7 linked regions of the Homo sapiens genome follow. The protein of the gene in region 5 purifies or fractionates together with the protein of the main gene of each other region. This does not show direct contact. Each region holds a gene or a part of one and is shown on either strand. Other genes may lie near its edges.

Evidence for each region.
Region 1: the proteins of LRRC27 (region 5) and KLHL12 purify together in Homo sapiens (co-immunoprecipitation; one large-scale study listed by IntAct). This does not show direct contact.
Region 2: the proteins of LRRC27 (region 5) and BBS7 purify together in Homo sapiens (affinity purification with mass spectrometry; 2 studies listed by BioGRID and IntAct, with this or other methods). This does not show direct contact.
Region 3: the proteins of LRRC27 (region 5) and WDR19 purify together in Homo sapiens (affinity purification with mass spectrometry; one large-scale study listed by BioGRID and IntAct). This does not show direct contact.
Region 4: the proteins of LRRC27 (region 5) and ZNG1A purify together in Homo sapiens (affinity purification with mass spectrometry; one large-scale study listed by BioGRID and IntAct). This does not show direct contact.
Region 6: the proteins of LRRC27 (region 5) and IFT52 purify together in Homo sapiens (affinity purification with mass spectrometry; 2 studies listed by BioGRID and IntAct, with this or other methods). This does not show direct contact.
Region 7: the proteins of LRRC27 (region 5) and AP1M2 purify together in Homo sapiens (co-immunoprecipitation; one large-scale study listed by IntAct). This does not show direct contact.

Annotation. Positions count from the first base shown.
Region 1 is NC_000001.11:202,920,735-202,924,234, forward strand, and holds part of KLHL12 (kelch-like protein 12), read right to left. Parts: intron 1-3,500. UniProt on the Homo sapiens protein: Substrate-specific adapter of a BCR (BTB-CUL3-RBX1) E3 ubiquitin ligase complex that acts as a negative regulator of Wnt signaling pathway and ER-Golgi transport.
Region 2 is NC_000004.12:121,853,475-121,856,974, forward strand, and holds part of BBS7 (BBSome complex member BBS7), read right to left. Parts: intron 2,088-3,500; coding exon 2,015-2,087; coding exon of another isoform or gene 1,970-2,014; intron 1,350-1,969; coding exon of another isoform or gene 1,347-1,349; coding exon 1,230-1,346; intron 1-1,229.
Region 3 is NC_000004.12:39,227,529-39,231,028, reverse strand, and holds part of WDR19 (WD repeat-containing protein 19), read right to left. Parts: intron 2,820-3,500; coding exon 2,672-2,819; intron 2,544-2,671; coding exon 2,339-2,543; intron 1-2,338. UniProt on the Homo sapiens protein: As component of the IFT complex A (IFT-A), a complex required for retrograde ciliary transport and entry into cilia of G protein-coupled receptors (GPCRs), it is involved in cilia function and/or assembly.
Region 4 is NC_000009.12:148,057-151,556, forward strand, and holds part of ZNG1A (zinc-regulated GTPase metalloprotein activator 1A), read right to left. Parts: intron 3,372-3,500; exon of another isoform or gene 3,249-3,371; intron 2,670-3,248; coding exon of another isoform or gene 2,651-2,669; exon of another isoform or gene 1-2,650. UniProt on the Homo sapiens protein: Zinc chaperone that directly transfers zinc cofactor to target metalloproteins, thereby activating them.
Region 5 is NC_000010.11:132,379,601-132,382,008, reverse strand, and holds the end of LRRC27 (leucine-rich repeat-containing protein 27), read right to left. Parts: 3' UTR 501-2,408; downstream 1-500.
Region 6 is NC_000020.11:43,639,437-43,642,936, reverse strand, and holds part of IFT52 (intraflagellar transport protein 52 homolog), read right to left. Parts: intron 459-3,500; coding exon 313-458; intron 1-312. UniProt on the Homo sapiens protein: Involved in ciliogenesis as part of a complex involved in intraflagellar transport (IFT), the bi-directional movement of particles required for the assembly, maintenance and functioning of primary cilia. Required for the anterograde transport of IFT88.
Region 7 is NC_000019.10:10,574,742-10,577,312, forward strand, and holds part of AP1M2 (AP-1 complex subunit mu-2), read right to left. Parts: coding exon 2,457-2,571; intron 289-2,456; coding exon 163-288; intron 1-162. UniProt on the Homo sapiens protein: Subunit of clathrin-associated adaptor protein complex 1 that plays a role in protein sorting in the trans-Golgi network (TGN) and endosomes.

The sequences.
Region 1 (3,500 bases), on a different chromosome or scaffold from region 5:
GTAGGTAGTTATCTATACGCCAGGAATAAGTAATAGGTAACACCTTCCTGGAATAGTAATTTTGCCAGTGAATAACTTTAAAAATCTATTTCATATTAAAATACAGATGTATTTACAGAATAGAATGCAAAAGTTCCATGAACATAACACTGGTCCGTGAACTTTTAAGATAAGACACAATATTTCAAAGAAATTTCATGTTCGTAGAGGAGCCTGTGGGTTATAACTCCAGTCTCTCCAGGACTACCTAGTTCCTATCATCTGTCCTTAGACTACTTTTTTTTCCCCTTTGTTGAGATAGGGTCTTGCTCTGTTCCCCAGGCTGGAGTGCAGTGGTGTGATCTCAGCTCACTGCAACCTCTGCCTCCCAGGTTCAAGTGTTTCTCGTGCCTCAGCCTCCCAAGTAGCTGGGATTACAGGAGTACACCACTACAACCAGCTAATTTTTTTTTTTTTTTTTGACACAGTCTTGCTCTGTTGCCCAGGCTGGAGTGCAGTGGCGTAATCTTGGCTCACTTCAAGCTCCACCTCCCAGGTTCAAGCGATTCTCCTGCCTCAGCCGCCTGAGTAGCTGGGACTACAGGCACATGCCACCATGCCTGGCTAATTTTTGTGTTTTTAGTAGAGATGGGGTTTCACCATGTTGGCCAGGCTGGTCTTGAACTCCTGACCTCAAGTGATCTGCCCACCTCAGCCTCTCAAAATGCTGGGATTACAGGCGTGAGCCACCATGCCCGGCCCTTAGACTGCATTTAGTAATGACGAAAAAGAACATGCAGGTCATCCTAAGGGACTTTCTTATGTAACATCATCTGAATACAAATAAATTATTTGTTACTTTTTCAAAATATTGGGTTAGACTAACTGAATTGTTAGCAGTATATTTAGTCTAAATTGTTAGTAGTATATCTTCTTGAAGCTATGAGTATTGATGAGGCCAGATAATCATAGAAAACTGTTTAGCTAAGAGAAGAAATCTTCAATTTTACAGGAAACTATCTGAAAATACCTTATGAAAATTTTACTAGATCTTAATCTTAGTTTAGAAATTCATTTTACTTAAAAAACTCTGGTGCATCTCCATTATTAACTAAATGGCTTTAACGTTTTTTATTTCTCCATCAGCCAGAGAATAACCAAAAAGCACTCTCTACCAAAGCCAAGAACAAAATCAATCCCTAACACTAAAAAAGTCACTAGCACATTATTTTGAAAAAACATATTAGGTTTTATTAACATTTAATACAGTACTAATATTCATAAACAATTACTATCCCAACACATTAAATGCATTTAATAATTATGGTACTGAAATATGTAAGTACATGTATTCCAGAAATTTCTCATTCAATAAACTACATTTCCATCAAATAGTTTAAATATGGAAACAATTTCACTATGTAAGAACTTAGAGCAATTATACATTTTACAGTTATATTTTGCTTTAGAATTTTTCAGCATGCTTCTCATTTACTACTATTTCATCTGATTCTCACAGCAACCTGGTAAGGTAGTTAGGTCTGATATTATTACTATCTAAGAGATAAAGGGGGGCCGGGCACATGGCTCAAGCCTGTAATCCCAGCACTTTGGGAGGCCGAGGTGGGTGGATCACAAGGTCAGGATATCGAGACCATCCTGGCTAACATGGTGAAACCCCGTCTCCACTAAAAATACAAAAAATTAGCCAGGCGTCAAGGAAAAAAAAAAAAAGAGAGAGCGATAAAGGGTCTAAAGATCAAAGAAGATCCAAGACTTTTTTTTTTTTTTGAGACAGAGTCTCGCTCTGTCACCCAGGCTGGAGTGCAGTGGCGTGATCTGGGCTCACTGCCAGCTCCGCCTCCCGGGTTCACGCCATTCTCCTGCCTCAGCCTCCCGAGTGGCTGGGACTACAGGCGCCCGCCACCACGCACGGCTAATTTTTTGTATTTTTAGTAGAGACGGGGTTTCACCGTGTTAGCCAGGATGGTCTTGATCTCCTGACCTCGTGATCCACCTGCTTCGGCCTCCCAAAGTGCTGGGATTACAGGCGTGAGCCACCACGCCCAGCTGAAGATCCAAGACTTAACCAGTCACTTAGCTAGTAAGAGACAGATATCATTCTTATTAAAGTATTTCAGGAAAAAAAAAAGAGAGAGAGAGAGAGACAAAACCCAGGTCCTCCTGCCTCAGTCTTTGTGATCTTTCAATCAGATGACATTTGAGGAGCATTTCATAGCTGAAGAGAACAAGGAAACCATCTAGTTCAACTACTTTATTTTACAGATCAACCCAGTGAAGTTAGATGGTTCCCAGGGTTTATACAGAATTGCTAAGAGAACTAAGCCTAGAATCCAGGTCTCTGGACTCTCTCCTTTGAACAATTACTCTCAAAAATAAAGACAAAACCATCTAGCATTTCCTTGCCTGATGTCAGTTTTTAAAGAAAGAAATCATCACTGATGAGAAAAAAAGAATTCATTTCCAAATAACAAAAGAGTAAAGACACTATTTTCAAGCTGACAAAAAACAGGATGCACAACATATAATTAGCAATCAGCCGTTCTAGTTCATTTCTTGCTCAGCAGCTGCTGGGTGACACTCTCTTTACCCAGTTAAATTCCAAATGCTTCTGATGATCTTGGGTATATCTCATGGAGAACAGTATAGGACAGGGATCTGCCTTGGTATATCACACAAGTTTATTTAAAAATTAGCCTGAATTAGTTGGAATGACCTGTCAGGTTCCTGTTTTCCCTACTAGCCATGTGACTGAGCATTGGCTCATAGTATTTTTAACTATACCAGTTTTAAAATTAGATTGTAGTATATAAAATTCATACTTCGGAGGCTAAGGCGGCACAAGAGTTACAAACTGTTTGGGCTTTAGAGTTGGAAAATATAAAATGAAATCCCACCTCTAGCACTTACAAGCCATGGGACTTTGGGCAAGTGATTTAATATCTGAAACCCTATTCCTTCATTTGTAAAATGAGATGGTAATACCTACCCCTAGGGTGAGTCAGATATGCACAACAATTACTAGCACAGTACCTGGCCCATAAAAGGTAGTTATTACCATCACAGAATACGCCTCTCCCATTCTGATTCAGCAGCAATATCTACACTAAGATGATAGAACTAACTAAAAAAAAAACAAAAAACAAACAAAAAACTTGTGCTTAAAAAGACTTTTAAAACAGTGTTTTCATAATGAAATATTTCAGGCATACATGTAAGTGTAAATTATATAATAAACAGTGATGCACCCACAACTGAGCTTTGAAAAAATAAATCAAGATAATTTATTTAAATCTGCTCTTAAAATGAGACTTGGGATCTTGAAAAACAAAGATTTGCAATGTTATTTTCTGTTCAGCTTTCTAAGAATATTCAACACAATATATTCAGCAGCCTTACTATACATTTCAAGTATTTTGTCAGGCAATTACTAAGTAGTGTTTCTTAATACTTTGTGAGCACTACCTGTATTCTCTCAAGCCAACCTTTTCCTAATTCCC
Region 2 (3,500 bases), on a different chromosome or scaffold from region 5:
CCTAGCTGCTCAGACAAAAATTCTGGGCCACATCTGATTTCTTTCTTTTTCTCACCACCCCTCATATCAAAACTGCTAGCAAATTCCATCTTCTCTACCTCCACAATATATACTGAAATTGTCTATGTTTCCAGCTACTGATAGCCTAGACTAAGCTAGCCTAGACTAGAATAAATTATAATAACTCTTCTAACTGGTCTCCATGCTTCCAGTTTTGACCTGTTGCCCCCCGCCCCCTCCAATCCATTCTCCAGTGTCCTTTGTTTTGTTTAGGCTTAGTAAATTAAGTGTCACACTCCCACTGACAATTTTCTAATGACTTCCTACAGCACCTAGATTAAAATTCAAACTGTTTTCCAAGGCTTACACAATTTGGCTCTACTCTACCTCTCTGACTCCATCTCCTGCCATGTTAACGCATTTAGCCAAACTGACTGACCTTCCTACTGTTCCTCAAATGAATCAAATCTACCTCCACCTCAAATCTTTCACACTTACTTTTTCCTCTTCCTGAAACATTTTTTTCCCCAAATCTTCATATTGCTAACTCTTTTTCTTATCAATCAGATCTCAGTTCAAATTTCACCTCTTCTAAGAGGCTATCTTTGACTACGTGGTCTAAAAGTGACCCTCCTCCTTCTACCATCACTCTCTAATACACAGCCCTGTTTTATTTTCTTCAGGTGACTAGGTAAAGCTGTCTTATGTATTTATTTGTTTTTACTCTGTCTCTCCTAATAAGTATTTGTTGAAGGAATAAATGAATATATGAACATCCTGAACATATACATAGGCATCTCACTATCTACCTAATCAGTTATAAATTCTCCTTAGAAAGGTATAAATTCCTTAGAAAACAGGAATATTCTCTGACCCACTGCACTTCTTCTTTGCCTCATAACAAAGACTCCCAGATTCCAATTAATTCTGTACCTCAAACAACTAAATTACCTCAGACAATTAAAATCCAATTAAAATTGGATTTTAGCATAAAATGATATTAGCCTATAAAAACGTATCAATACCAAATTACTATCAGCATTTCTTACTTTTAAAAAATTATGCCAATAGTATAATAGACCTGACAAATAAACAAATAGTAGATAAATCAAGGTGTGAATTGCTAAGTCTGCTATGTAGTATAAATAGATAAAATAGAATAAATTATATAATTTAAGATACTTAATAATCATTGACACCTCAGAATCTGAACTACATGAAAAGCATACCTCCTCTCTTTTTCTCATTTTGAATTTCCCACTTGCGTACTGGTTTGGATGTAGTAATCTGTATAAGCGCAAGTTTTCCGTCTGATGTCCCAAACAAAAGGTCTTCTCCAGAGTCACCTACTTATAATTAAAGTCAACATATTATATTTATCCTACAATTAGTAATCTCTTTAAAATTAAAATGTTGTTATGTAAAAATATCATTTTAAAAAGTACTATAAAAAGATATAAAACTTAATTGTTGAGAATGGTTATATATTCACACAATTTTATAGCTATAAGAGATAAGACATTTCCCCATTATATAATTTTAAGATGAAGAAACTAGGTTGGGTGCCGTGGCTCATGCCTGTAATCCCAGCACTTTGGGAGACTGAGGTGAGAGGATCCCTTGAGCCCAGGAGTTCCAGACTAACCTGGGCAACATGGCGAAACCCTGTCTCTATAAAAAATACCAAAAACCTAGCCGGGCATGGTGGTGTGCGCCTGTAGTACTAGGGAGGCTGAGGTGGGAGGATCCCTTGAGCCTGGGAGGTCGAGGCCGTGGTGAGCTGAGATTGTACCACTGCACGCCAGCCTGGGAGACAGAGTGAGACCCTGCCCCCCAGCCCCCCAAAAAAGAAAAAAACGGAGAATTAAAAGTTCAATAACTCGTGCTGTTAGTTACTGGCAAGTTACCAGAAAGACAACTGTCTCAATTCTAGTTTATGTCCTTTCTACAATTTCCCATTTTCACTTACTATTAAAACACATAGTTGATTTGTGAAAAATAAAATCCTGATTACCGCCATTTCCATTGTGTAGTGCTAAGACAGTAGGGGGTCCAGGAACTTCAACTGCATACATCACATCAGATCCCTGAAGGAGAAGTATTTAAAAACTGAAACAGAATACAAACTGAAAATAATAGAGGCATTCATGAATAACATCAATATTCAAATACAGTACTCTTAGTAACACCTAGAATAAAATTGCTTTAAAAATTAGGTTACGAATACAACTTGCATTTGTTAGCAATTTTGCATATATCAACTGATTTGAAAACAACATATATACACATATATACGTATAAATGTATACATATATACGTATATATACAGATATGTACACACATGTATACATATATACACATATGTATACATATATGCACATGTATGTGTATATATGTATATGTACATATATGTACATACATGTATGTGTATATATGTATATATGTGTACATGTACATGTGTATATGTATATGTACATATATATGTGTGTATATATATATATATAAAATGTAAAGACCAAGAAGAAAACATTTAAAATATTCTCTACCTTTAATACATTTTAAATACATTGTTTGCCTGAAAACTTGACACTGGCAGATTTTCCTATCAAGTCTCTAGGAACAAATTATTCCCTCTGCCCTCTCTAGGTTAACTGGAAGTCTTTAACTTGGAATACATCCAAATATTTTAACAGACACAAAGTTACTTCCTAAGGAAAATTTTGGCCTTGCCTTTGGGTATTCCCAAAATCTGCTCCAGTCAGAGGCTGAATGACCTGCTACTTAGATAAAAAAACAAGTTAGGTCCTTATATATTTATCAGTTTTTCAATTTTGCTACTTGTAATGCTTGTCATTTTGGGCACAGTATTTGTGATGCTGTTAAAGAATGAGTTAGAAGTACTTATACTCACATGGAAAAAATATCCATGATCTATAATTCAATGAATACAAAATTTGCAAAATGGGGTGTGGTGGCTTATGCCTGTAATCCCAGCACTTCCGGAGGCCAAGACGGGTGGATCATCAGGTCAGGAGTTCAAGACCAGCCTGACCAACATGGTGAAACCGTCTCTACTAAAAATACAAAATTAGCCAGGTGTGGTGGTGCATGCCTGTAATCCCAGCTACTCAGGAGGCTAAAGGAGGAGAATTGCTTGAACCCGGGAAGCAGAGGTCGCAGTGAGCCAAGATTGCACCACTACTCCAGCCTGGGCGACAGAGCAAGACTCCATCTCAAAAAAAAAAGAAAACACAATTTGCAAAATTATAGTTAATATGGTATGACATTTTTGTTTTAATGTTTTTTTTTTTTTGAGATGGAATCTTGCTTTGTTGCCCAGGCTGAAATGCAATGCTGTGACCTCAGCTCGCTGCAACCTCCACCTTCCGGGTTTAAGTGATTCTCCTGTCTCAGCTGCCCGAGTAGCTGGATTACAGGTGCAGGCCACCATGCCTGGCTAAGTTTTGTATTTTTAGTAGAGACAAAGTTTCACCATGTTG
Region 3 (3,500 bases), on a different chromosome or scaffold from region 5:
AGCCCACTCTTTAATGGATTGTCTGTGGCCACTTTCCTGCTACAACAGCCAGACTGAGTAGCTGCGATAGAGACCCTATGGCCCGTAAAGCTTGAAATATTTGCCATTTGGACCTTAACACAAAAGGTTTTCCGACCTCTGGTTTAAAACATGAACATAAATGCCAATTAAACTTTTTGTGGAACCTCTACATGAGTGAATATATTACATCCATCTATCTATTCATTCATCCATTTATCTATTCACCTATCCATTTTTTCATCCAACACACATTTACTGAACTCGTTACATGCTTGGAAACATGATACAAAAATCAACCACAGTTGCTGTCCTTAAGGCAGTCACAATTGGGGAAGGTGGAAGAGACAGATAAGGAAACAAATGACTATAGCATAGTTTGACAGAGGTAACTGAGTACTTACAATAGGTAACTCTTTGTGCTAAGTCTTTTGCATAAATTCTCTTACCCTAATAACCCTACCCACTAAGTATTATTATTATGTCTCCTTTATAGATTAGGAAAATGAGGCTTAGAGACGTCAAAAGACTAGCCCAAGGCACACAGAGGTAAGTGGTGTCATGCTCTTCACCACTGTGTATACTGCATCCTGGCTCTGAGGCAACACATCAGAAAGACCCCAAGCAGGACTGCCTGTGGTGGTGGGGAAGTCGGGGAAGGCTTCCTGGAGCAGGAGATGGCTCCACTTATCGCTGATGGGTAAAGAAAGAGGGGTTACTACATTCAGAGCAGGGAAAGGGCATTCCAGGAAGAATCATGAAATATATGCAATTTCAGCAGCCAGTGGAACAGAGAGGGACTTGAGTGGAGACAGTTGAGCTGGTGTTAAATCATGAAGTGCCTAGTAGGTCATAGAGGTCCCCCAGGAATGGATTTGTTTGTAAAGGCAATAGAAAGTCACTGAAGGATCCTGAGCAGGGAAATAAGAGGATCAAATCACATCTTCAAAAGTGTGTGGAGAACAGATGAGATCGTTACAAGGCTATTGGCAGACAGAGCAGTTAGGAAGTGGTTAGTTACATTACACATTATTCCAGGTGAGGGCCTGGGTAAAGATGAGGGAACACGGGAGGAGGAAAGGAGCTGGTGTATATGTGTGTTAAGGCATGTGCATGTGTGATTACAGTGAGGGAAAATAGGGGCCTGTGGAAATTGATGAGTTCAGTTTTAGAAAGGGCAAGTTTGAAGAGCTCATGGACTTCCAAGGACACATGACTGGAAGGTAGTTGTAAGTACAGGTTTAAGATAAAGACACAGATTTTAGAGTCAGCTTCATATGGGTGGTATGTTGAGCCATGTTAAGCAGAGGAGATTCACTCAGGAAGAATAATTAGAGTAAGAAGAGAAGGAAACTCATGAGACCCCAATAAACAGCAGCATTTAAGAGAGGCTCGGAAGAATTAGAACGTCAAAGGAATTCACGGTGGCTCTAGGAGATAAGAGAAAAAAACAGTAAAAGGAAATTATAAGCAAAGCAAAATCAAACCTCACTATGATGAAGTCAAGATATTGTTGAAATAATTAGGTTTATTTTATTAGGATTTCCCAATAACTAGGCTCTCTGGAAGCTTAGAAACCGTTTTGTTCTTAAGGGCTTTTCTTGTAATAAAGTACTCATAATAAAAACAGCTGACTATCTTATCTGAGCCTCACAATATCCCTGTGAAATGAACAAGGTAAGTGCTGTTATCTCCATCTATTGAATAGGATTTGACATTTTATCAAAAAGACACCTGCACTCATATGTTTACTGCAGCACTATTCACAATAGCAAAGTCATGGAATCAACTTAAGTGTCCATCAACAGATGACTGGATTTTAAAAAGTGGTGTGTATATATAGATATACACACTATGGAATACTACTCAGCCATTAAAAAAATGAAATCATGTCTTTTGCAGCAATATGGATGGAATTCGAGGTCATTATCCTAAGTGAAATGCCCCAAAGTCAAAAACTGCATGTTCTCACTTAGAAGTGGGAGGTAAACAATGGGTACACATGGACATACAGGTGGAATAATAGATACTGGCAACTCCAAAAGGCGGGATGGTGAGACAGGGTTGAGGGATAAAATACTACCCACTGGGTACAGTGTTCACTATTCTGGTGATGGGTACATTAAAAGCCCAGACTTCACCATATGCACTATATCCATGTAGCACAACTGCACTTGTACTTCTACATTTACAAAAAAAAAAAAAATTCTTGCAAGGATAAAGAATAAAGCAATAAAATAAGATAGAATAATTATAGGATTTGACCTTTAAAATCACAAAAGCAAATGAGAAGTTCCAAAAGAAGTGTGTGAAAGCCTACCTCTTTAGCATTAAATTCTGTGCCAGCATTGGTCTCAGTTCGTCAGGCCCCGTATCTTTTAAGTTGCTGAGAAAGCCATGGGTGCTAAGGTAGATGTTGTTTACTTTTCCACTCTGTGTTTGGCAGGTCAGCTCTCCATTATATAGCAGCAAAGGTTTATGAGCAAAAGGAACTTTGGTGCTACCAGCCAAAATAACCTTGGCTCCTACATTATAAAACAGACATCGCAATGCTGAAAGCTAATACTCAGCACAAACATCAGAAAGAATGTTTTAATTTTACTGCAATGGGAAATTCATCTGTCAGCGAATATACACAAAAGGGGTTTAGTACCTTGTATAGTGTCCTTGTGAAAGACATAAGTGTACACCTTATCATCATCATAAGCAATAAATACACCTTTATCCATTGGCCAGTTTTCCCAAAGAACACCTTTAATGGTTGGTGAAAAATCTGGAATCTCATAGGTAGCGTCATTGACCTACAAAATAAAATTTACAGATTTGCCCCAAGTCTGTACTTGAATCATTATCATTTGCCGTGGTAGAAGCCTGTTTGCAGCCTTAGCTGGCTTAGCTTACTGAGTCATATTCAACCTAACATCACTCCAACAACAACAGGAAAGAAAGTTTCTTTTTCCATTCCTATCCTAGGTCTGGCTTGAAAAAACTATAGTTATTTGGAAAAGCCAAGGTTTGATCTAAAATCTGGCAAATTTGTAGGAGAACCCACAAGTCTAGACACAAAGCTTCAGGTTAAGGAAAAAAAATTAAAGCTGCTCAGGATGACAGAAATTTAAACTACGAACACACTTGTACTTGTGTTTAGAAATTTTTCAATAATACTGAGTATTTGATAATAGTGGGTATTAAGAAACAAATTAACTCACATGATTGAAGTAAATTACACTAGGGATACTTTATTTCAAAAGCTTCTCTAAAATGCATGTCAACAAATATAAATATACAATCATCCCTCAACATCCATGAGGGATTGGTTCCAGGATCTCCCACGGATAGCAAAACCCACAGATGGCCAAATCCCTGAATAAAATGGTGTAATATGTGTATAAACTATGTACACCCTCCCTTATACTTTAAATCATCTCTAGATTACTTATAATACCTAATACAATATAAATGCTATGTAAATAGTTGTCATA
Region 4 (3,500 bases), on a different chromosome or scaffold from region 5:
AAAATAAATAAAAATAAAAATAAAAATAAACCAAATGAATGAAGTTTCCCTCCAAGTTTGTCATCTTCATCTTAGGAAATAGCTTAAAGTTTAATAAAGTTTACACATGCCAATTTTGTGAATATCAAATTCAACACTTTGGAAACACAAGCTTCTAAATAAACTGTTTCACTGTGACAGTGTCCTTGAGAATACATGCCATCCAGAGGTAATTCTGCTTTATACTCAGATTCTTTCCATACTTCCAAAAAAGGATCAATATTAGACCTGTACAACAAATTACACTCTTTTACAGAAAACAATAAAATATCCAAGTCTCTCACCAAATTTTCAAAAAAGAGGAAAAGTGTAAGCTTCCAGATGAAAGTTTCTATAGCTTTCCCCAAATTTAGTACCACCATGAAAAACAAATTCTTCACTCATTCAAGGCATACGACTAGAAAACTAATTTCCATGGCATCAAATTAATTTCCTCCTTTGGAGATAAAACCATGAGATCTTTTCCAAAGCATTAAAATCGCCAAGAAAAAAAAAAAAAGAAAAAAAAGACCATTACCAGCATTTTAAAACTGAGTAAGAGAATGAAGTAAACAAAAAAGGGAAAGAAAAAGCTTCAAAAGTTCATTTTTCTCCTAATTTCTTGAACTCTCTATTCCAGAAGTACCTAATGTTTTTCTTAAAAGAGAGGCTTTCAATTTTTCCCTATGTCTAAAGGCTGCTTTAAGTAGCCTAAGACCAAGGACAGGAGAGTGAAAATGAAGAGGGTTTTGGCTCTCCAAGGTGGGGGTGGAATTGCAGCTACTGCTTAGGGATATTTTCCAGTGGTCATCTCTTCAAACTCCAGTGAGTCTCACAAACAGGGTGCACCAGCCAATCCAAGTATCCAGTATCTACAATGCAAACTGTAGATACTATCCAAATTGACAGTAGATAGCTCAGTAAATAGCTGAGCAAACTGCAATGATAGCTCAGTCTTGAACTCTGGAAATAAATTTCCAAAAGCCTTCCCCAGTGGCACTTCAAACTCAAAAACGCTTACAAAACTAATCACATTTTCCAAACCTGCTTCCACCACTACCCGACCTGTTGCTCCTCCTTCCTGTATTTCCTATACCTCGGAGATTAGCCTCACATTGAATCTACCTCCCAAGAGGCATGTTGCTTTTAAAATCCTTCACTAACTCCTTGCTCCCTACAGAAGAAAATCCAAACTATGTATCATGGCATTCAAGACCCTTTGTGGTAAGTTCTCTATCTCTTCAGTCATACCACTTTTTCTGTGCTACATAATACCAAGTTTTCTAGCCATTCTAAAAAATTCAAAGGTCCCTGGAATACAAAATCTTCCTTATACCTGGAAAGTTATCCCTACCCTACTCCATCTGTAAAAGCCTTATTCATTCTTTAAGACTCAGGTCAATGACTGTCTTCTCGGTCAATATTTTCCTGACTCTTTTTCAAGAAAAGTTGAGCAATCATTCCCTCTATTTTCCTATTATTATAGAACTCTGTGCTTTTAAAATTCTTGTATTAATATTAATATCTATTATGTTGCCTTTTTGTTTGTTTGCTTCTGTTTCCCCCCAATGACTGATCTCCTTAAAGGCAGAGTTTTTGCCTTATCCATTGCTTATATAGTCCTTAAAATGCTATGAAATGCATAGTAGGCAGTTTGTCAAATTAATTTAACTTATTATTGACCAGCTGTGTTTTGGTTTTCCTCTGTTCAGTCCACTTACATTTCTAAAAATTAAGAAAAAGTCTAGAGAAGATTAAAATGACACATCTTCTAACCTTTTACTCCTACTTCTGAAATCTATGTGGTTCACTAGTACTTCCATTTGCTACTAAATCAACTTAAGTCTTACCACTAAGACGATGCTACACACTATTCCTTTTCCTTACTCTTAACTACTCAAGGTGAGCCTTTTTCTACACATGCTTATAGCAGTTTATTGTCAGTACTTGTCAGCTACAAAATGGTAAAAAAATTTTAAACAAAAAATAAAACAAAACTTCTATAAGAGTGACTTTGACTATTTTGTTAACCAAATCTCCGGTTTTGTTTTTTTTTTTTTTTTTTTTTTTGAGACAGAGTCTCGCTCTGTCACCCAGGCTGGAGTGCAGTGGTGCGATCTCAGCTCACTGCAAGCTCCGCCTCCCGGGTTCACGCCATTCTCCTGCCTCAGCCTCCTGAGTAGCTGGGACTACAGGCGCCCACCACCAGGCTCAGCTAATTTTTTGTATTTTCAGTAGAGACGGGGTTTCACAGTGTTAGCCAGGATGGTCTCCATCTCCTGACCTCGTGATCCACCCACCTTGGCCTCCCAAAGTGCTGGGATTACAGGCGTGAGCCACCGCGCCCAGCCCAAATCTCCAGTTTCTAAACTGGTAAGCTCAAGTTGCTATGCCTCAAGGAATTTGAGAGAATATTTAATGTAAGATTCAGGACCCAATAGTAAGAATTGTACTCAGGACATCTGATCTTCATTGAAAAGGATTCTAATGCAACTTCAGTCCTCATAGCAAGGAAGTACTATTTCAGAAAGTCCCTAGATTCTCAGATGCACTGGCAAGCACCATACACTGAATAATTCACAGAAGATTTTAGTCACTTGCTCACTCATCCACTTGAAGTAAGAAAAATCAATCACTGCATGTTTATTGTTCTATAATAAAGCAAATGTTAGAAATAAAAGTTAGAAATGTCAAACACACTAAATTGTTACATAATAAACTAATCAAGACACAACTTTTATTCAGGACATGGATATTTCTGAAATGAAAACAAAAGAAGAGAATTGACTTAAAATGTTTATAAATACGAATATTATGACAGAACCAAAGCTATTTATGAGCATTATTTTTAAAAGCTTGTTTAAGTATTATGCACTTGTCTGTGTGACATTTTGTAAAGCGGAGAAAAATTAAGGAGAAAGGAATTGTAGAACACTAACAGGAAGAGGACAGATACTGAGGAATGGCTCATAGTATAAGTGAGATTATCAGAGACTTTCTACAATGGAATTTGAAATGCAGGGAGCACATTTGGTGTATGGTTGTAGAGGACTTACACTAAGGGCATTCTTCTGCTACCTCTGCCAGCAGATGAGTGGCTCCTGAGAATGCATACCAAATTAATTCCCCAGCTGTTCACATGCATATAAGCAGCTGCTGCTGTTACTGCCTAACACTTATGGCAGTCTGGCAGCACCTCTAATCTCTGCCATAGCAGACAAGCCACTCACCTAAGGCCTCTGCTGTACTTCCAAAGAAAGAATTTCTCCAGTAGAGACTGAGTGGAACTAGACTGCCAGCTGTGAGCCTCAGAGCTCCTGGCTGCCTGTTGCTGAGTCTATTAGCTGCTGAGCCTTTCTCACCAAAAAAAAAAAAAAAAAAAAAAAAATGAGCTTAATAAAATAACCCTGCACAGAAATTTTCTGAAATTAAGATAACATTCAATGGAAAACAGAATTTAATCTACAGAAATACACTTCACA
Region 5 (2,408 bases):
GAAGATGGTGTTTTTCTTTTCCTTTTAAGCTCAGCGGTTAGCAGCTTTCTAGATAAGGGCAGTCCTGATCATAATCTGACTGTGTTTGCACAGAACAGCAGAGCTGGCCTCTCCCCTCCTGCCCTAAATTCTGGTACTTGCTTGTCTTCCTAATTCATGCCTGTGGCATTTTTTTTTTTTTTTTCAGAATAGGGGACTTATGTCTGCATTAAAAACATGTTCAGGCAGATATCCTTTCTCCTCTTTCTCCTCAGTGACTTTCTTCATGGTTTCCGTATCCAGGAACTTGTCTGCTGCCCCTTGGCCGACAGAAGCTGCTTCTCCTGTTATCTTGACATTTTTCCAGCCAAGCCTCTTTCTAAAATTATCAAACCATCCTTTGCTGGGATTAGATTCTCCAGCTTCAGTTCCTTCCCCTTCCTTTTGTTTGAAGAGACTACAGGTACACCTTTCTCAGTGTATTAGTAAGTATTCTCTAGAAGGACAGAATAGGATATATATACATATGAAATGGAGTTTATTAAGGAGAACTGAGGCACAGGATCACAGGGTGAAGTCCCACAATAGGCTGTCTGCAAACTGAGGGGCAAGGAAGCCAGTAGTAGCTCAGTCTGAGTCCCCAAACCTCTAAAGGAGGGAAGCCGACAGTGCAGCCTTCAGTCTGTGGCCGAAGGCCCGAGAGCCCCTGGCAAAACACCAGTGTAGGTCCAAGAGTCCAAAAGCTAAAGAACTTGGAGTCTGATGTTCAAGGGCAGGAAGCATCCAGCATGGGAGAGAGATGAAGGCCAGAAGACTCAGCCAGTCAGCTTCAGCCACCTTCTTCTGCCTGCTTTTTCCAGCCATGCTGGCAGCCGACTGGATGGTGCCTGCCCACACTGTGGTGGGTCTTCTCCCAGTCCACTGACTCAAATGTTAATCTCTTCTGGCAACACCCAGAAACAATACTTTACATTCTTCAATCTAATCAAGTTGACATTTAATATGAACCATCACACACAGCAATCCTATACCCACATAAAAGCTGCATTCCCAATACAAGATAAAAAGGTATTTCACAGAAAGTGTTAAGGCTTTTGTGCCTGCTCACAAATTTCCTTATTTTTTTACTATGGTCCTTACGCTGGATTCATTTATCTTGAATTGGTAGGCAACCGCAGCTGTAAACCTCAATCTACGGAACATATCAAGAAATTCAACTTTTTCTTGAAATGTCATGACTTTTCTCTGCTTCTCAGGAGCTCTTTGGCATGACTGGTGGCACTCTATGGGTCCCAAAGTGTTCTTCAAGGTTTACAGTATTGCGCTCAACATGAAAAATACACAAGAACATCCCGATGTCCCCTTTTTTTCAAGTTGGGGTCTCACTCTGTTGCCCAGGCTTGAGTGCAGTGGTGCAATCACAGCTCACTGCAGCCTCGACCTCCTGGGCTCAAGGGATCCTCCTGCCTCAGCCTCCTGAGTAGCTGGGACTGCAGGCGTGTGCCACCATGTCCAGTTAAAACAGATCACTTTTTACCGTGATACACAATGTACTGAAGACATGAACCGCTCGTGCAGAGATTAGCACCACACGATGTTTTAAGCGGATCCTTGACATGCTTGCGCTCACTGCAATAGCAACAGGAGGTGGCTTTGTAATTATTCCAGCAGCACACTGTGGACTGCAGTTAATTTCATGCAGTTATAATTTAATGCTGCATTTTTTTTTTTTTGAGACAGAGTTTTGCTCTTGTTGCCCAGGCTGGAGTGCAATGGCGTGATCTCGGCTCACTGCAACCTCTGCCTTCCGGGTTCAAGTGATTCTCCTGCCTCAGCCTCCCAAGTAGCTGGAGTTACAGGCATGTGCCACCATGCCTGGCTAATTTTTTATTTTTAGTAGTCACGGGGTTTCTCCATGTTGGCCAGGCTGGTCTTGAACTCCTGACCTTAGGTGATCTGCCCACCTCGGCCTCCCAAAGTGCTGGGATTACAGGCGTGAGCCACTGCACTCGGCCAATGCTGCATCTTTACGGCGACATTTCTCTCTACTGTGAATGGTCCATGTATGGTCTGTATATTTTATGCATTCATGACATAACTTTTTCTTTTTTCAGATATTTCTAGGCTATGTGGCTCATCTGCAAAGTTTTTCAAATTGTTGCAAATTTCCAAAAATTTTTGCAATATATATTTTTTTAAAAATCCACTTATAAGTGGACCCTTATAATTCAAACTCTTGTTCAAGGGTCAACTTATACAATGCTGGACACTCACTAAAAACTTATTAGAAAAATGTAATATATTATAGAAAAAAGAAGAAAAGAGATATAAAGGAAATGAAAAGATGGAGAATTTCAACAGAGAATCGGCATCCACAAAAAATTACCAGACACCTTAGACCTGAAAAACACAACATCTGAAATTTAAAA
Region 6 (3,500 bases), on a different chromosome or scaffold from region 5:
CCTCAGCCTCCCAAAGTGTTGGGATTACAGGCGTGAGCCACTGCGCCCAGCCTCCACTTCTTTTATACCAAAGCACTTACCATTTTCTAGCATCCTATGTGACTCACTTATGTTTACTGCTTATTGTCTACATCCTCCAGCTAGTATATAGGTTCCATAAGTACAGGGTTTATTGTCTGTTTTGTTCACCTAGTAGATGCTTAATAAATATTTACAGGCTGAATCAACGTCATAAAACATGGCAAGCACAGTCCATGGAAGATACCAGTACTGGAGGGGCTCCCACTACACTGTGCCTTGTAGGCTCTGTACCTGGTTCAATTTCTTGAACTCCACCACTTGGAAGAAGACGTGCTCAAGGATATGTTTGGCATCCTGTTGGTCCTTTGGTAGTTTACTGGTTACTCCAAGAATATCACCACACTTCCTGACATAAAATTCCAGGTCTTCTTCAGTACCTAAGACAGTTGGAGTAGTAGTTAGATTAATTCTTAACTTCTGCCCTTCCCAAAGTACAGACTTAGTGTGTTTCAGGTATGCCCTGTCATGTTTCCACATTTCCTAAGATCACTCACCTCTTCCTAAAGTAATGTGACTACAGGATTTCAACACTGAAAAACCCTAGAGCTCTCTAATGTGCTGCTTTTATAATAAAAGCACTCCTAATCAGAATAAAACTGGACTGGTACTGGCTTTCCTATTCCTCAGATCTAGTATTCCTACATTAGAAAGAACAGGTGCAACAGTAGGAAATCAAATTATCATTCCCTGAATGCAACAAAGATGACTATAGAGAAGCATATGGGTAATTAAAAATAGCATTTACTAAAACAATATTGTATTGGCTGGGCGTGGTGGCTCATGCCTGTAATCCCAGCAATTTGGAAGGCTGAAGCAGGTAGATCACTTGAGGTCAGGTGTTCAAGATCAGCCTGGCCAACATGGCAAAACCCCATCTCTACTAAAAATACAAAAATTAGCCAGATGTGGTGATGCAGGCCTGTAATCCCAGCTACTCGGGAGGCTGAGGCAGGAGAATCACCTCAACTGGGGAGATGGAGGTTGCAGTGAACAGAGATTGCGCCACTGCACTCCACCCCGGGCAACAGAACAGACTCCATCTCAAACAAAACAAAACAAAACAGCCGAGCGTGAAGGCTCACGCCTGTAATCCCAGCACTTTGGGAGGCCAAGGTGAGCGGATCACGAGGTCAGGAGTTCGAGACCAGCCTGGCCAGCATGGTGAAACCCTGTCTCTACTAAAAATACAAAAAAATTAGCCGGGCATGGTGGTGCGCACCTGTAATCCCAGCTACTCGGGAGGCTGAGGTAGGAGAATTGCTTAACCCTGGGAGGCGGAGGTTGCAGTGAGCTGAGATCACGCCATTGCACTCCAGCCTGGGGGACGTGGTGGCTCACATCTGTAATCCCAGCACTTTGGGAGGCTGAGGCAGGTGGATCATCTGAGGCCGGGAGTTCGAGACCAGCCTGACCAACATGGAGAAACCCTATCTCTACTAAAAATACAAAATTAGCCGGGCGTGGTGGTGCATGCCTATAATCCCAGCTACTCAGGAAGGCTGAGGCAGGAGAATCGCTTGAACCCGGGAGGCAGAGGTTGCAGTGAGCTGAGGCTGTGGTGAGCCAAGATCGTGCCACTGCACTCCAGCCTGGGCAACAAGAGCAAAATTAGGTCTCAAAACAAAACAAAACAAAACAAAACCCCAAAAAACAAACAATATTATAGAAAGAAAATTAAAGAAAAAAATCACCCATAATTCCACCAACAACATAGCTCTGTGAAGCCATCCTCTGGAGCCCTACATGTAGGATAGACAGCCATTACTGCCCTTCTCACATTATACTGTAATTTCTTTCTTCCTTTTTTTTTTTTTTTTTTTTTTTTGAGACAAGGTTTGGCTCTATCACCCAGGCTGGAGTGCAGTGGCATGATTTCAGCTCACTGCAACTTCTGCCTCCTGGGCTCAAACCATCCTCCCACCTCAGCCTCCCAAGTAGCTTGGACTACAGGTGTGTACCACCACGCCTGGCTGATTTTTTGTATTTGAGACGGGGTTTCACCATGTCGCCCAAGCTGGTCTCGAACTCGTGAGCTCCAGCAATCCACCTGCTTTGGCCTCCCAAAGTGCTGGGCTTATAGGCATGAGCCACTGAGCCCAGCTGTAATTAATTTATTCTCCCTCTGATTTGCATTTTAAGTTTTGATAGAAATGTATGTTTTTTACTAAGACATTCAAACCCACAGCTGTATCAATGTTTCATCCTAGTTCTACTGCCACCAACTACCTAGAATTATTATTGCTATGTATGCTTCTGTGTGTAAATGTAAGTTTTCACAAAAATGGGATCAAACTAGAATAGTTTTCTAAGTTGACTTCATCATTTAATGATGTATTATGGACATTCCGAATCAAAGTTTATGCCCTGCATTTTTTTTATTTTCTTTTTTGTTTTTTCAGATGGAGTCCCACTCTGTCACCCAGACTGGAGTACAGTGGCGTGATCTTGGCTTACTGCAACCTCCACCTCCCGAATTCAAGCAATTCTCCTGCCTCAGCCTCCCAAGCAGCTGGGATTACAGGCACCTGCCACCATGCCTGGCTAATTTTTTATTTTTATTTTTAGTAGAGACAGGGTTTTACCATCTTGGCCAGGCTGGTCTCAAACTCCTGACCTTGTGATCCACCTGCCTCGGCCTCCCAAAGTGCTGGGATTACAGGCATGAGCCACTGCGCCTGGCCTTTTCTTTTCTGAGACAGGGTCTCGCTCTGTCAACCAGGTTAGAGGACAGTGGCACAATCTTAGCTCACTGCAGCCTTGACTTCCTAGGCTCAAGCAATCCTCCCACCTGGGCCTCCTGAGTAGCTGGTACTACAGGAGTGAGCCACCATGCCCGGCTAATTTTGTTTATTCTTCTATAGAGAAGAGGTCTCACAGTGTTGCCCAGGCTGGTCTCAAGTGATCCTCTTGCCTCAGCCTCCTAAAGTGCTGGGATTATAGGTGTGAGCCATCGCACCCAGGCTACATTTTTCTTTTAACAGGTATGTAATATTCTATTTTGTTTCTATTTATTTATTTTTCAGAAACAGGGTCCTTTGTCACCCAGGCTGGAGTGCAAGGTGTATCATAGCTCACTGCAGCCTCCAACTCTTGGGCCCAAGTGATCCTCCCACCTCAGCCTTCCAAGTAGCTAGGAATATAGAAATGCGTCACCGCACCTGGCTACTTAAAAAAATTTTTTTTTTTAGATGGAGTTTCGCTCTTGTTGCCCAGGCTGGAGTGCAATGACACGATCTCGGCTCACCGCAACTTCCAACTCCTGGGTTCAAGCGATTCTCCTGCCTCAGCCTCCCCAGTAGCTGGGATTACAGGCATGCGCCACCACACCCAGCTAATTTTGTATTTTTAGTAGAGAAGGGGTTTCTCCATGTTGGTCAGGCTGGTCTTGAACTCCCAACCTCAGGTGATCTGCCCACCTT
Region 7 (2,571 bases), on a different chromosome or scaffold from region 5:
GGCTGTGGGCAGATAAAGGTAACATTGCTCTGGGAAAGACCAGGCAGCCTTCAGAGGAGTGTTGACACAGGCCAGGGGACTGAGGTGACTCGAGCCAAGGGACAGGAGAGAGGGGAACCCACCGAAGTCAAGGGGAGGATCCTCCCTGCCTGCTTCTCTCACCTGGATCCCAGAGACGGTGAAGTAGGGGATCTCAAACTTGACCCCGATGGGGGGCCGGCCCTCCACCTCTTCCTTTTCCACACTGGGGAGGCCAAAGTGGGCTCGCATCAAGTACTCCTTGCCCCCCTGAGGGAACATGGGGGCATCAGGTACACGAGGGTCCGCCTACCCTCCCGAGACCTTCCTTTCAGCAACCCCTGGAGTCAGATCTGCTCACAGCCCATTTCACAGACAGGAAAATAAAGGCTCCTTAGCCTGGGCAACATATTGAGATACCATGTCTACAAAAAGTTTAAAAATTAGCTGGGTGCGGTGGAACATGCCTGCAGTTTCAGCTACTTGGGAGGCTGAGGCAGGAAGATCCCTTGAGTCTGGGAGTTTGAGGCTGCAGTGAGCCATGATCTCACCACTGCACCCCAACCTGGGTGACAGAGACTCACCAGGGAAGATTCTGACTGCAAAACCCAATCAGGGTTTTTTTCTTTTTTTAACTACCATGTCCTGTTTTACAGGCACTGATGATCCACCTCTCCCAAGATCATGGGGACAAACCAAAACCTCTAGTAGCCAAGGGATGTGGGTCACCTCATCCTGCCCATTTCACAGACAGGCAAACTGAGCCTCCTTAAGTGGAAATGGGTTTCCCAAACCCACCCAGCTCAGCAAAGCAATAGTGAGGAAGGTGAACCCAGGGCTGGTTTCCTCAAGACATTGGCAGGGGGATATTTAAATCCACACACTTCCCGTCATGGAAGTTTACACGTCTGTGAAATAGACTGGCCTGGTTTCAAGCTTGATCACTTGCATACATACGTACCTCTCTGATTTACTTGTATTTCTTTTTTCTTTTTTTTTCTTTTTTTTTCTTTTTTTTTTTTTTTGAGATGGAGTCTTACTCTGTCGCCCAGGCTGGAGTGTAGTGGTGCGGTCTTGGCTCACTGCAAGCTCCGCCTCCCAGGTTCACGCCATTCTCCTGCCTCAGCCTCCCGGTAGCTGGGACTACAGGCGCCCGCCACCACGCCCAGCTAATTTTTTTTTTTTTTGTATTTTTAGTAGAGACGGGGTTTCACAGTGTTAGCCAGGATGGTCTCGATCTCCTGACCTCGTAATCTGCCCGCCTCAGCCTCCCAAAGTGCTGGGAATTACAGGCGTGAGCCACTGCGCCTGGCCTTGTATTTCTTTTTTCTAAGTTTTTTTTTTTTTCTTGAGACAGAGTTTCACTCTGTCACCCAGGCTGGAGTGCGGTGGCGTGATCTCAACTCACTGCAACCTCCGCCTCCCGGGTTCAAGTGATTCTCCTGCCTCAGCCTCCTGAGTAGCTGGTACTACAGGCGCACACCCCCATGCCCGGCTAATTTTTTTTTTTTTTTTTTTTTTGAAATGGAGTCTCGCTCTGTCACCCAGGCTGGAGTGCAGTGGCGTGATCTCTGCTCACTGCAAGCTCCACCTCCCGAGTTCAGGCCATTCTCCTGCCTCAGCCTCCCAAATAGCTGGGACTACAGGCGCCTGCAACCACGCCCGGCTAATTTTTTGTATTTTTAGTAGAGATGGGGTTTCACCATGTTAGCCAGGATGGTCTCGATCTCCTGACCTCGTGATCCGCCCACCTCGGCCTCCCAAAGTGCTGGGATTACAGGCGTGAGCCACCGTGCCCTGCCCTAATTTTTGTATTTTTAGTAGAGACGGGTTTTCACCATGTTGGCCAGGCTGGTCTTGAACTTCTGACCTCAGGTGATCTGCCCGCTTCAGCCTCCCAAAGTGCTGGGATTACAGGTATGAGCCACCATGTCTGGCCTTTTAATCTTTTTTTTTTTTTTTTGAGACGGAGTCTCGTTCTGTTGCCCAGGCTGGAGTGTGCAGTGGCACAATCTCAGCTCACTGCAACCTCTGCCTCCCGGGTTCAAGCAATTCTCCTGCCTCAGTGTCCCGAGTGGCTGGGATTACAGGCATGCGCCACCACACCCAGCTAATTTTTGTACTTTTACTAGAGACGGATGTTAGCCGTCTCTATGTTAGCCAGGCTGGGATTTCAGGCGTGAGCCACTGCGCCCAGCTCCTCTTAATATTTTTATAGAGGCAGGGTCTCACTGTGTTCCCCAGGCTGGTCTCCAGCTCCTGGGTTCAAGCGATCTGCCCGTGTCAGCCTCTCAAAGTACTGGCATTCCAGTCATGAGCCATCACACCTGACTGGGTCTCTGATTTGTTCTCTGCCTTGTTCTCATGGCTCCTGGGCAGCCCCCACACTACTCCAGTCCCCTCCACCCCCAGATCCCCCGCCAGTCCCTGGTACTTACCGGGAAAGACTTAATACTCCAAATCACGACGTTTCTCTCCGGCACATACTTGGCGCTGCCCACACTGGTCTTGAATCTGGGGGAGTCGGCATCGCTGGGTACAGGCACAGATATC